Homo sapiens: one gene and its partner. The protein of the gene in region 2 interacts with the protein of the main gene of each other region in a biochemical or structural test. Each region holds a gene or a part of one and is shown on either strand. Other genes may lie near its edges. The genes, in order: ACR and ZP4.

Evidence for each region.
Region 1: the proteins of ZP4 (region 2) and ACR form a complex in vitro, tested with the Homo sapiens proteins (one study listed by IntAct).

Annotation. Positions count from the first base shown.
Region 1 is NC_000022.11:50,740,988-50,745,915, reverse strand, and holds the end of ACR (acrosin precursor), read right to left. Parts: intron 1,856-4,928; coding exon 1,710-1,855; intron 1,264-1,709; coding exon 709-1,263; 3' UTR 577-708; downstream 1-576. UniProt on the Homo sapiens protein: Acrosin is the major protease of mammalian spermatozoa. It is a serine protease of trypsin-like cleavage specificity, it is synthesized in a zymogen form, proacrosin and stored in the acrosome.
Region 2 is NC_000001.11:237,887,828-237,894,965, reverse strand, and holds the start of ZP4 (zona pellucida sperm-binding protein 4 preproprotein), read left to right. Parts: upstream 1-4,043; 5' UTR 4,044-4,330; coding exon 4,331-4,505; intron 4,506-4,789; coding exon 4,790-4,911; intron 4,912-4,996; coding exon 4,997-5,099; intron 5,100-6,455; coding exon 6,456-6,608; intron 6,609-7,138. UniProt on the Homo sapiens protein: Component of the zona pellucida, an extracellular matrix surrounding oocytes which mediates sperm binding, induction of the acrosome reaction and prevents post-fertilization polyspermy.

The DNA of each region.
Region 1 (4,928 bases), on a different chromosome or scaffold from region 2:
AGAAAGCTCTAGCAAAGAATACATTTTTTAATTTGCTCAAATCCAGGAACTAATAAGATTTAACTACAGGCAAGTAATGAACAGGCTTGTTGGTGTCAACTGGACACTAACAAGCCACAAGCAAAATTGTGTTTGGTAGTAGACACTTGTTTTGGTGGCCTAGTGGCCTCCTTAGCCTTTGTGTTCTGGGGAGTTCAACCTTCATGCAGAATCTTCTCTGTGGGTGTCAACACCACCAGCCTCCTGATAGAAGACTTGGACCCACACCCCCTCTTTCCCCGTCAGCTCACTCACAGCTGCTGCTTTGGGGGTCCACCCCCTTTGACTTGCACATGCAGAGATGGCTCTTTTATTTTCACCATTTGTCGTTTCTCCCTAAGTGTGAAATAAAGACCATCCCCGGTCTACGGCCCCAGGTCACCTTATTCCAGCATTAAAAATCAAGATTTTAAAAAACACGATTGGCACTAATGTACAAGCAATTCCGCCTTATTGTAGGGTGAAGGAGAGAGGGTAGATTTTATAGGGGAAATTTGGGTTGGGAGGGGGGATAGGAAGAAGTCCAGAAAGCATCTCTTGATGTATATGCATGTATACATACAGATATGTGTGTGTGTATATCTATATATATATGTTTATTTATTTATTTCATCTTTCCTTTTTCTCAGGAGTGAAGGGCTCACTGGGTCTGTTGAGAACCAGGTCAGATCAGGAGGTCGAGGTCAGTTCTGGGAGCTCTGTGGTCTCCATGTCATAATGGTTCTTTCCGTCGGAATAGGTCTTCCCCTTCAAGACCTCTATGAGCTGCTGTAGGCGCTTGGCAAAAGAAAGTCCTTGGGGAAGTTTTGTGGTAGATGAGGGTGTAGGTGGGGGTGGGGGTGGGGGTGGGGGTAAAGGTGAGGCTGGAGGTGGGGGTGGGGGCGGGGGTGAAGGTGGGGGTCGGGGCTGGGCTGCCGGTGGTCGGGGTGGAAGTGGTCGAGGGGGCGGTTGGAAATACCAAGGAAGGTGAGCAGAGATAGGGTGGGAGAAGGGGGGTCGAATCGGGGGCGGTCGAGTGGTGGGAGGTGGAGGGGTGGCCGATTGAATCATACGCAAAGCGTTAGAACCAATCTTGGAGGCGATCCAGTTCAGATAGGGCCAGGTGGCCGTGTAGATTCCGGGGCGCTTGGCACGGGCACAGCCTACCCCCCAGCTTGTGATTCCCACGACCACATAGGCGCTTTCCTTGCTGTCTTTGCACATGAGAGGCCCGCCGCTGTCTCCCTGTCCAGAAGGACACAGAGGTCACTATCTGCCTGAGCCACTCTTCCCCTGCCCAGAGGGGTCGGAAGGCTCTGGGAGGACAATTTCCACAGTGACATGGTCTCCTGCTGCTGTAAACACAAGTGGTTGTAGTAAAGTTTGAGGGGGTGTCAGGGGCTTCATTTGGGATGTGAGGAGGGTGTGAATTGTCAGGGCTTTCCTTGCAGTGAGATGAGCAAACCCACGTGTCCACAGGGGCACATGGCAGGGGCAGCCGGTGGCTGTCACCGCTCATCCCCACTGTGAGAGTAGGTGCTAGAAAAGGGACCGGGGAAGCAGTCACTAGAGAAGGGCCCTGGGCAGAGCAGTGGAGATAGTGGAGCTTGGGGATCCAAAAGGAGGATGTTCTCAGGGGCCGGGAGAGTCCTGGAGGGACCCAGGGGCCCAGAAGCCAGAAGGAAGGTTACCTGGCAGGTGTCGATCTTGCCTACAGGATACCCCGCGCACACATTGGTTGGCTGAACGCGCCCATTGTACCACTGGGTCGAGTTACACAAGTCCAGGTCGATGAGATCCACACGTGCCTCCATCAGTATAGATGATGGCCTGGGGGCTATAGTCAGACCACTCGGTGGTCAGTGATCACGGGAGACACGGACAAAAGCCCTGCCTCCTTGCCCCACCGAACCCCATCCTCTGTGATGCTCCAGTTAAACCTCAGACCCATCCAGTCGATGCCCCGACCCCTCCTTATACACCAGAAAGAGCAGACTAGAGGTGGTGGGAGGAGGTGGGGAAATGTTATCCAAATCAAGGCCAGAGGAGAGAGGAAGAGAGGAAGGAAGGGTGGAGGCCCGTGGACAGGTGGATGGGGGGTGGGTGTGCGTATTAACGATGGATTATGGAGGTTAGTTGCAGTATTACCAATAACACCTAGTGTGCACCAAGCACTCCCTGAGTCACATGGTCCCGTTATTCCCATTTTGGATCAGAAGGCTGGAGCACCGCCCACCCAGGTCACAGTAGAGAGGTGGTGGGGCTGCAGCCTGGCCTCAGGACTGCTCCTCTCCAGACTCCAGTCTGAGACACACTGTCCACTCCCACAGTCTGGCTGTAAGCCACTCCCCCTGCTTCTTGTCCCTCTTCAGAACTCCTCGGCTCAGCTGCGGACGGGATCTGCTGCAGCTGGGTCAATAAGTCCCTCCCCATATGCTGCATATCTGTTCCGAGGAGACCGCAGGGGAAGCTCGGGGCAGCGCCTCCACACACGGGCAGACCTGGCAGGGGCAGGGGCGGTTGAAACAACCCCGATGCGGACTTCCTTGAAAGCCCTGGACTTGGCTGGGCGCGGTGGCTCACGCCTGTCATCCCAGCACTTTGGGAGGCCGAGGCGGGCGGATCACGAGGTCAGGAGTTCGAGACCATCCTGGCTAACACGGTGAAACCCCGTCTCTACTAAAAATACAAAAAATTAGCCAGGCATGGTGGCGGGCGCCTGTAGTCCCAGCTACTCGGGAGGCTGAGGCAGGAGAATGGCGTGAACCCGGGAGGCGGAGCTTGCAGTGAGCCGAGATGGCGCCACTGCACTCCAGCCCGGGCCACAGAGCGAGACTCCGTCTCAAACAAAAAAAGAAAGAAAGCGCTGGACTCTCTACCGTGACCTTTGGGTTAGAAAGACCCGATGCTACGGCGCATGCGCCAGCGTTGCTCCTTTTCAAGGGGTCCCACAGACAGAAGGGTCCCCAACAGCAGCAGCCACTCTGGCCCCCACCGCAGCAGCACCTACAACCCTGGGGGTGGATCTGGACGTCACCTGCAGAGCAGATGGGAGCAGACTGAGGTAGGGGCAGACCCAGAACATAGCTGCACAGGCCAGGACGGGAGACAGGGGACACACGAGTGACGTGCATAGGGCTCGGCACACAGCAGGCGTCTGGTAAGCGGCTGCTGAACGAGTGCTCGCTGGCTTTCCGTTTTTTAATCCCCTTAGCCCCCACCTTTTCTTACCATCCAAGCAGCAGTGAGAGTTTTGTACATGCACTGCCCTTGGGGTAGGGGTGACATTGAAACAACAATGACAACAATCCTGGCTTATTAGCCATTAAGACGATTTTTTTTTTTTTTTTTTTTGAGACGGAGTCTTGCTCTGTCGCCCAGGCTGGAGTGCGGTGGCGCCATCTCGGCTCACTGCAAGCTCCGCCTCCTGGGTTCACGCCATTCTCCTGCCTCAGCCTCCCGAGTAGCTGGGACTACAGGCGCCCGCCACCATGCCCGGCTAATTTTCTGTATTTTTAGTAGAAATGAGGTTTCACCGTGTTAGCCAGGATGGTCTCGATCTCACGACCTTGTGATCCACCCTCCTTGGCCTCCCAAAGTGCTGGGATTACAGGAGTGAGCCACCGCGCCCGGCCAAGATGACTTTTTAAGTCTAGGGCAGAGCCCATAGTCTTGAAAGCCATGGGTTTTATTGTGAAGAGCCAGGTGTCCTCAAACAGAAAAGGGTTTTCTAAATCCCAACACCTTGGCGGGTTTTTTTTGAGATGAAGTTTCGCTCTTGTTACCCAGGCTGGAGTGCAGTGGCGTGATCTTGGCTCACTGCAACCTTCACCTCCCGGGTTCAAGTGATTCTCCTGCCTCAGCCTCCCGAGTAGCTGGGACAACAGGCATCCACCACCACACCCTGCTAATGTTTTATATTTTTAGTAGAGATTGGGTTTCACCATGTTGGCCAGGCTGGTCTCAAACTCCTGACCTCAGGTGATCCACCTGCCTCGGCCTCCCAAAGTGCTGGGTAAATTACAGGAATGAGCAACTGCACCCAGCCGACACCTGGGCTTTAAATAACAAATGCTTAAAAGTCTGCAGGGACTCAAAACCCAATGGGAAAGAAGCAATACCCAAGCAATACCCTTCCAGCCCCAAAGCAGATGAGTTGAAGGAGGTGGTAAGACATGGAAGGTTTGAAGGGATCACAGGAGTTGGAGCCTGGGGGTTTCTTTAAGACTTGGGCTTATGGGTACAGGATGTGTTTGCAAAAATGAAAAACAAAAAAACCCCAAACAGAAACAGAGTGATCCTATTAGGTTTATGGGAATTCCAGAACAAAAAAGGTTTTGCATGGCATCCAAGATATAGCTAGGACACTACAATCTGTCTGAGTAATAGAATAGGACAGCAACGGTTGGCAGTGGGGACCCTAAGATCAGCCTCCCAGGAACATAGGGACCCCCAAGAGCTGTGGACATCATCAGACAGGGGACAGAGCATGGCAGGCTAGGGGGCTGGACAGAGGCCAGGGCAGAGCCATGGGTATCGGCAGCTGGAATAGAGGCTGTCACTCCAGGCCAGAAGGGGATGGCCACGTGTCAAGTGAGGCCAGTGAGAACAAGGACAGCTGGGATGAGACTCCCTTCCCTGAGGGACAGGAGAGGTGACAAACCTGTCAGAAACTTAGACCACGCCCTCAGAGAAGGAAATAAGAGTTAAAGGAAGAATCCTCAAATTATTGACTTTTTGTTGTTGTTACCCAAAAAAGGCTGCGTTTTAGACTCATATGACTGAATTGCCTTGAATTAAGAAGCCTCATTATCCATTATCAAGAAAAAAAGAGATTGAGATGCACCACTTATGGAAAGCTGGAAGTATAGGTCACATGCAGAGATCAAGTCCTACTGGGTCTTGTCCTG
Region 2 (7,138 bases):
CAAGCCTTCAGAGACTGATTTGAGTCATAACTGTCTCCCATGTGGCTGGCCTCACATCAATGATATTCTTTCCTCATCAGAATGTCAGGGTCTCAGTGAATTGATCTTGCCTGTGCAGCAAGTAAGACAAACCCATCAGGCAATTACATTAGTTACATTTGAGGGGGACCAAAAAACTCTACATGGATTTTTGGCTGCATGCGGGGTTGGCACCCCTAGCCCCCACATTGTTCAAGGGTCAACCATACTGACATCCCTCTCAAAGTCCGACTACCCATTCAGTAGGGTATCCTCCTGCCTGTGAAAGGGAATGATAATTTTCCACCCATCATGGCAAAGGAAGGTGTGGAGCAGGGAGGGGAGAGACATCAGAACAGAGCAGGTGCTGTGCAGTCAGCACAGGAGACACTTCAGAGACAGGTCTTGTACCTTGGACACAAAAGAGGCGTTGAAACAAGAGACCCAGTAATGGAAGCCATCGCAACTGACTCTGAATTACACTTCATTCTTGCTTGTTGAAAAGGAAAACCATGTAAGTACTTACAGTAAATTAAGTTTGACATCTTCCTTCAGAAGAGAAGTGTCCTAATTTCCACCACATGCAGAGAGCAGCTGGATGCACCATCCTTGCTCCCTAATTACTGATTAACACAACAATGGTCTAATCATCCCTCCATATTTGAGGGATAATTTTGATTATTGCTTCTCCACACTTGAAGTGGGCTTCCTGGGGCCTTGTTTGAGTGGTACTTCACTCTCCAGTTAGGAGGACCCTGCTCCAGTCACAGCGGGGCAATCACTGTTAATGTCAGATGAGGAGTCTGTACTCAATGGCCAGAAAGCATTGTACTACAGCTCCATGCTATCCAAACCTTGTGGGGTGATGTCCCTATTCTGCAGTTTAAAATGAAACACTCAAATGTAAATATGACCAGATTGAAGAAGGTTTTTGGAAATCACCGTTTGCCTTTCCCCAATCACACAGGTTGCCCTCATGACCTGAGTGGCCAGATCACTGAATGAGGAATGGGCAGCTTCAGTGAATGAGGAATGGGCAGCTTAGCTTCAGTGCAGGACTCCCAAGTACTTTGGTAAGGAACACAAGGGGAATCCTTAAGCCCGCCTATAAAATGTGGGTTGCATGAATACTACCATGACTATGGGGCTTTTGATAAGTCTGTACACATTAGGATGCCTCATAATCTGTTCGTAATGGCTCTGAAACAATTTTTAAATGACTGGGTGATTCTGACATAAGACAAAGAACAGCATTTGCCCTTTCACATTCAAAGGACAGAGCATTCATGTTGTGATAATAGTGGATAGGATGTTTTTTCTGTTAAGCCTGGGGCTCCTCGAGGTGGATCACACATTATCAGTGCATTTTCTCATCCCGAAATTAAATGATGATGTTCTTGGAAGATTCAGCAGAGGAATGAGCATAACATTACCTAACCCCAGACCTGCCTGCATTATCTTGGCATCCATCTTTGACCCTCTGCAGCATCAGAGAGATGGGTGTGATCCTAGGTGGACTTCAAGATAGCTCCACATAGTTCCAGGCTTGTGTGATTTTTCAACTTCATTATGTAAACACAGGACCTCATTTGGGAATGCAGCCTCATGAGTATAGGCTGTTCCTCAGACTCCCTGCAGATCCAATGAGTGCACTGCTTGGCATTTGCTTTCCATTTGCCACCCATCTCACCTTTATCTCCCAGGCTGGTCCTGTTGATGTTAGTGACAATGTAGCAATTATGCAACAAGCATTGTACATACATTATTTCATCTAACCGTCTGTTGTAATAATACTGTCCATGTTATTATCCCTATTTTACAGATATAAAAACTGTAACTGAGAGAAAGAGGTTAATACATTGACAGAGGTTGCAGAGTAACAGTCAGAATTTGTACCCAAGTCCACCCATTGTCAAAACTCACATGATATACTATACTATATTGCCTCCAAGTATGAGCAAAGGAAGTTACGCTCCTTGACTTTTCACCACTTTATAAAGCTGTTGGGAACAGGCCCCCCAAAATCTGGCCATAAGCTGGCCCCAAAACTGGCCATAAACAAAATCTCTGCAGCACTGTGACATGTTCGTGATGGTCGTGATGGCCATGATGCCCACGCTGCAAGGTTATGGGTCTACCGGAATAAGGGCAAGGAACCCCAGACCCACCCAGGATGGAAAACCGCTTAAAAGTGTTCTTAAACCACAAATAGCATGAGTGATCTGTGCCTTAAGGACATGCTCCTGCTGCAGATAACTAGCCAGAGCTCATCCCTTTATTTCAGCCCATCCCTTTGTTTCCCATAAGGAAGACTTTTAGTTAATCTATAATCTATAGAAACAATGCTTATCACTGGCTTGCTGTCAGTAAATATGTGGGTAAATCTCTGTTCGAGGCTCTCAGCTCTGAAGGCTGTGAGACCCCTGATTTCCCACTCTACACCTCTATATTTGTGTGTGTGTGTGTGTCTTTATTCCTCTAGCATCCCTGGGTTAGGGTCTCCCCGACTGAGCTGGTCTCAGCATAAAGCAATATTAGTAAGTCTAGTCAGGAGACTGGCCTTTTAACTCCTGAGACATCTTGCATGAGTCAAATCCTCAGATTCTTTCTTACATGTGCAATCACATGATATTTACTTGAAGGAAAAATACCTAAGGGTTATGAGTTTGAGCTCATCATAAAGGAAATGAATTTGTACCGGTGAGGTTTGGAAACTACATTTTCAAGGGGGTTAGCCCTAGGACATGGCCACTAATGAAAGCATATTCATTGATTCAGTCTTTACTCAGAGAACACTGAGTACATACATCCAAGGCACGCAGGATGCAGTGACAAATAAAAAAGTCCCTGGCCTCACGTGCTTCTAGTGGCAAACTGAATAAGAAAGAGGTCATTACAATCCAACCTGGCAAATCCTGTGAGTAAATGGCATGTAATAACCCAGTGGTGAGCACCTAATCCAGGTAGACGGTGTCAGGGAAGCCACATCTGTCTTTGAGGGCAGAGTCCAGCTTTCCTTCAATGTCATTTTTCATCATGTGGTTAAAAGGGCCACCAATTTTCCCAGGAAGACACATACTTATTTGTCCTCTGTGATGAGTTGAAGAGAACTAGAGATACCTAGTTACACATTCTCAGTGCTTTGACTACAATTTTTAGTCAACCGAAAAATATCAGTCTAAATACAATCAGGGTACAATTTGGGAATATTGGTGGCAGACTGCAGAAGACAAGTTTCCATGCTCTTGCCTCTCCAGTGGGGAATGTATCCATTTATCCCCAAATCTCTTAGAATTTCTCTACAATCTGGTCTGACACTCTAGCTTAAAGAGTGACCAAAGTATATAACTTGTAGTTTATGTGGAAAACAAAAATGTAGAAAGCAAGCAAGAAACCCTGACATCTTTATGAAATATGCCTGAAACACAGCCGAAAGATAAAATTGTCAAATAGCTGTAAGAGGCAGAACCAGTTTGAGGAATTCATGGCCTAATCCACATTTCCCCCAGATCCTGTGGGGAAACACTGTAGGACAGTTATGGCAATGAACCACTTTGGAATTTGTTGAAAGATTGCTGTGGTAGGATTCCCTCTAAGGACCAGGAAAGGGTTCAAAATCAACCTTTCTCAGGAAATAAGTTTAGATTTTTTTCTAGAATTTCAAGACAGGCTCTAATCGTACAGAAACTTTTCTAGAATGGATGGAGAAGGTGACAAGGCTTCTCAAGGGCCCCAACTCTCACCCGACAATGTTGACTGAGCACTCACTGCTTGGCCAAGCACTGTGCCAGGCACCTGACATAGAATCTCTTGCTTAATCCTCAAGCACACCACTGCCAGGAGATAGCATTCCCATTTTACAGATGAGAAAACCAAGATTCAGAGAGTTTGTAACGTACCCAGACCCCATAGTTCATAGATGGTAGTTTCACACCCAAATGTGCAAAATTCTAGAGGGAGGTCTTCTGAAGTCAATAAGTTCAATAAACTGGTGGGACAAATGCTATGTTGAGCAACCCTGAGGAAGCTTTCTTTCCTTCCTTTCTGTTAGCTAAAAGTTACTACATTTTTCTTGGGCTCTGAAGTCTGCCTGGATTGTGGTATTTAATGTGAGGCAGCTGCAGACTGTGCCCCAAAGCAAATGAGGCTAGAGGAATTCCCCTTTCTGAAGGCATCCCACCTGAGTGTCACAAAGATGTGCAGCTGAAAACAAGCCTGACTTCTGTATATAAAGGAATCTGGGCAGGCAGACCCTCGGCTCTTGGGAGAGGAGGCGGAGAGTCTGCAGCCGGCAGGAACTCCTGGTAGCATTATGTGGCTGCTGCGGTGCGTTTTGCTGTGTGTTTCATTATCTCTTGCTGTGAGTGGCCAGCATAAGCCTGAGGCACCAGATTATTCCAGTGTGCTCCACTGTGGGCCGTGGAGCTTCCAGTTTGCTGTAAACCTCAACCAGGAGGCAACGTCTCCTCCTGTACTAATAGCTTGGGGTAAGTTTGATGACTTGCCTTGCTTAGCCAAGCAATGATATGTCTCCTCTACTACCTAAGATGTCTCCCTATCTTCCCGTATTGATACTTTCACCTTCTGAGCCCTGTTGCATCTTTCTGCAAAAGAAATAGTCTAAGTTATAACTACATCTGATCTGAATCTGATTTCCCTCTTGTTCCTCTTATTGACAGTTGCTCCTTGGGGTCTAATGGCAAGGCTGACTATCCTTTCTGGCACTGGAGACTGACCGCTGTGTTTTCTCACCTCTTCCCCACCCCTCCAGACAACCAAGGGCTGCTGCACGAGCTGCAGAATGACTCCGACTGTGGCACCTGGATAAGAAAAGGTCCAGGCAGCTCCGTGGTGTTGGAGGCAACCTATAGCAGCTGCTATGTCACTGAGTGGGTGAGTATGACCCAATGGCCAGGGAGACTGTGTGAAGCGCCTCATGCTACCATCCAGGCTGACCCCCAAGGGCCTGTCTCTCCAGGACTCCCACTACATCATGCCAGTTGGAGTTGAAGGAGCAGGCGCGGCTGAACACAAGGTGGTTACAGAGAGGAAGCTGCTCAAGTGTCCTATGGATCTTCTAGGTAAAGGCTGGAAGCTCTCAGGGTCTTGTGGGGGTGGTGGGGGTGGGGTGTGAAAGTACTCTTGGTCCTCTCTGACCTGCTCTGTGCAGTGACACCTGACACTAATGAAGGAAGGATCATGTCCCAACTCTCACCTCCATGGGCAATCCTTAGGATAACTACCAATTGAGACTCCTCAATGCCAAGGCACTGTGGGTAAGCACTTCAGGTGTTACCTTCCCTAACCCTAACATAGTGCTGCAAATACTACTGCTGGCCAGGCACAGTGGCTCACACCTGTAATCACAGCACTTTGGGAGGCTGAGGCAGGTGGATCAGGTCGGGAGTTGGAGTCCAGCCTGACCAACATGGAGAAACCCCATCTCTACTAAAAACACACAATCAGCCGGGTGTGGTGGTACATGCCTGTAATCCCAGCTACTCGGGAGGCTGAGGCAGGAGAATCGCTTGAACCTGGGAGGCTGAGGTTGTGGTGAGCTGAGATCGTGCCCTTGCACTACAGCCTGGGCAACAAGAGCGAAACCCTGTCTCAAAAAAAAAAAAAAAAAAAATACAACCTATCTCTTGCCAGGAAGTTTTCCCAAGGGCCTATCACTGGTGAATGACTGAGCTGGGATTCAAAGAACTCTCCCAGAACCAGGAGCTTTTCACCCATGGGGAGAATGATAGGAAATAAAACTGAAGCTAGCAAGGGAACTTGGAAAAATACCTCCACAGAGCTAGATGTGCACTGAGACTAGGACCCAGGTCTTCCATCCCACAAGCTGGAGGGGTATCTGAGCATTTCCCTAAGGAAACAGCAGGAAGTATGATGCCTACTCAACTTTAGAAAGTCTCGCCTGACTGAGAGCCCGTCCTCAAAGTCAGAACAGACTCAAACTATAAATTCACTCTTCTCACCTGCCTTCCTTCCCAATACATAGCCAGGATGGGCAGCACTAATAAAATGAGGAATCATAGGCCCCACCCCAGTTCTGAACCAGACCTGAACTCAAAAACAATCTTCAGATAACTCATATCCAAACTAAGGCTTGAGAAACGCCTCTAAAGAACAGAAGGAAGGATTGTTACTGGAAGGAGTAAGAAACCCCCCAACTGCTTCTACCAATTTTGTTGACATTCTTGTTTTTAAAAAACTAATAGCAGGGCACTCTTACAAGGTGACTTAATGTTGACAACCTCCCAAGACTTAATCTACAACATGTAACCTCTCAATACTATCTACAATATGGAGTAGACACCTATTTCAATCATCTACATATCTACAGGAATCCAAAGTCAATGACTTGTATCAAAATGGTATTCAAGACTAACTTTTCCATTATCTAACCTGACTTACTCTTTTTCAAAACCTAGCCCGAGATGCTCCAGATACTGACTGGTGTGACTCCATCCCAGCACGGGACAGACTGCCATGTGCACCTTCACCCATCTCTCGAGGAGACTGTGAAGGGCTAGGCTGTTGTTATAGCTCTGAAGAGGTGAATTCCTGCTACTATGGAAACACTGGTGAGTAAGTGAGCACACCTCTGAAACCAGCTGAGGAAGTGTGGCAATTACAATGAAACCCAGAGAGGGGTTTGCTCAGAAGGCAAACATCAAGTGATAGCAGGCTGCCATGTAGCCATGCATCCAAGAACACTTGATCCCAATGTAACAGACTTCTACAACTCCCACTGTCCATTCTCCCAGAATCCAGATATAAAGTCAATAACGCTCAGACTTGAAGGCTATGTGCCAGATAATTGCTAGTGCCAGATAACTTCTAACTGACAGAAACTTATAGCGACTTTGGCTGATGGTCTTGGATTGTTTAGGGAGAGTCACTTCAAGGCTGTTGCTTTCTGCTTGTCTCTAATCCTGCTCTGAGGTTTTCTAACATAAACTTGACCTCAGAGTATGTATAGGTTGGTACAGGAGGAATCCCGGCTTTTGCCATTGTGGCAAAGGCTGCAATTACTTCTCTACCAACCTAATAATCGCACACGCTATTCCAAGATCTTAATCTTAACTGACAAGCAAAATGAGGTAGGAACTAC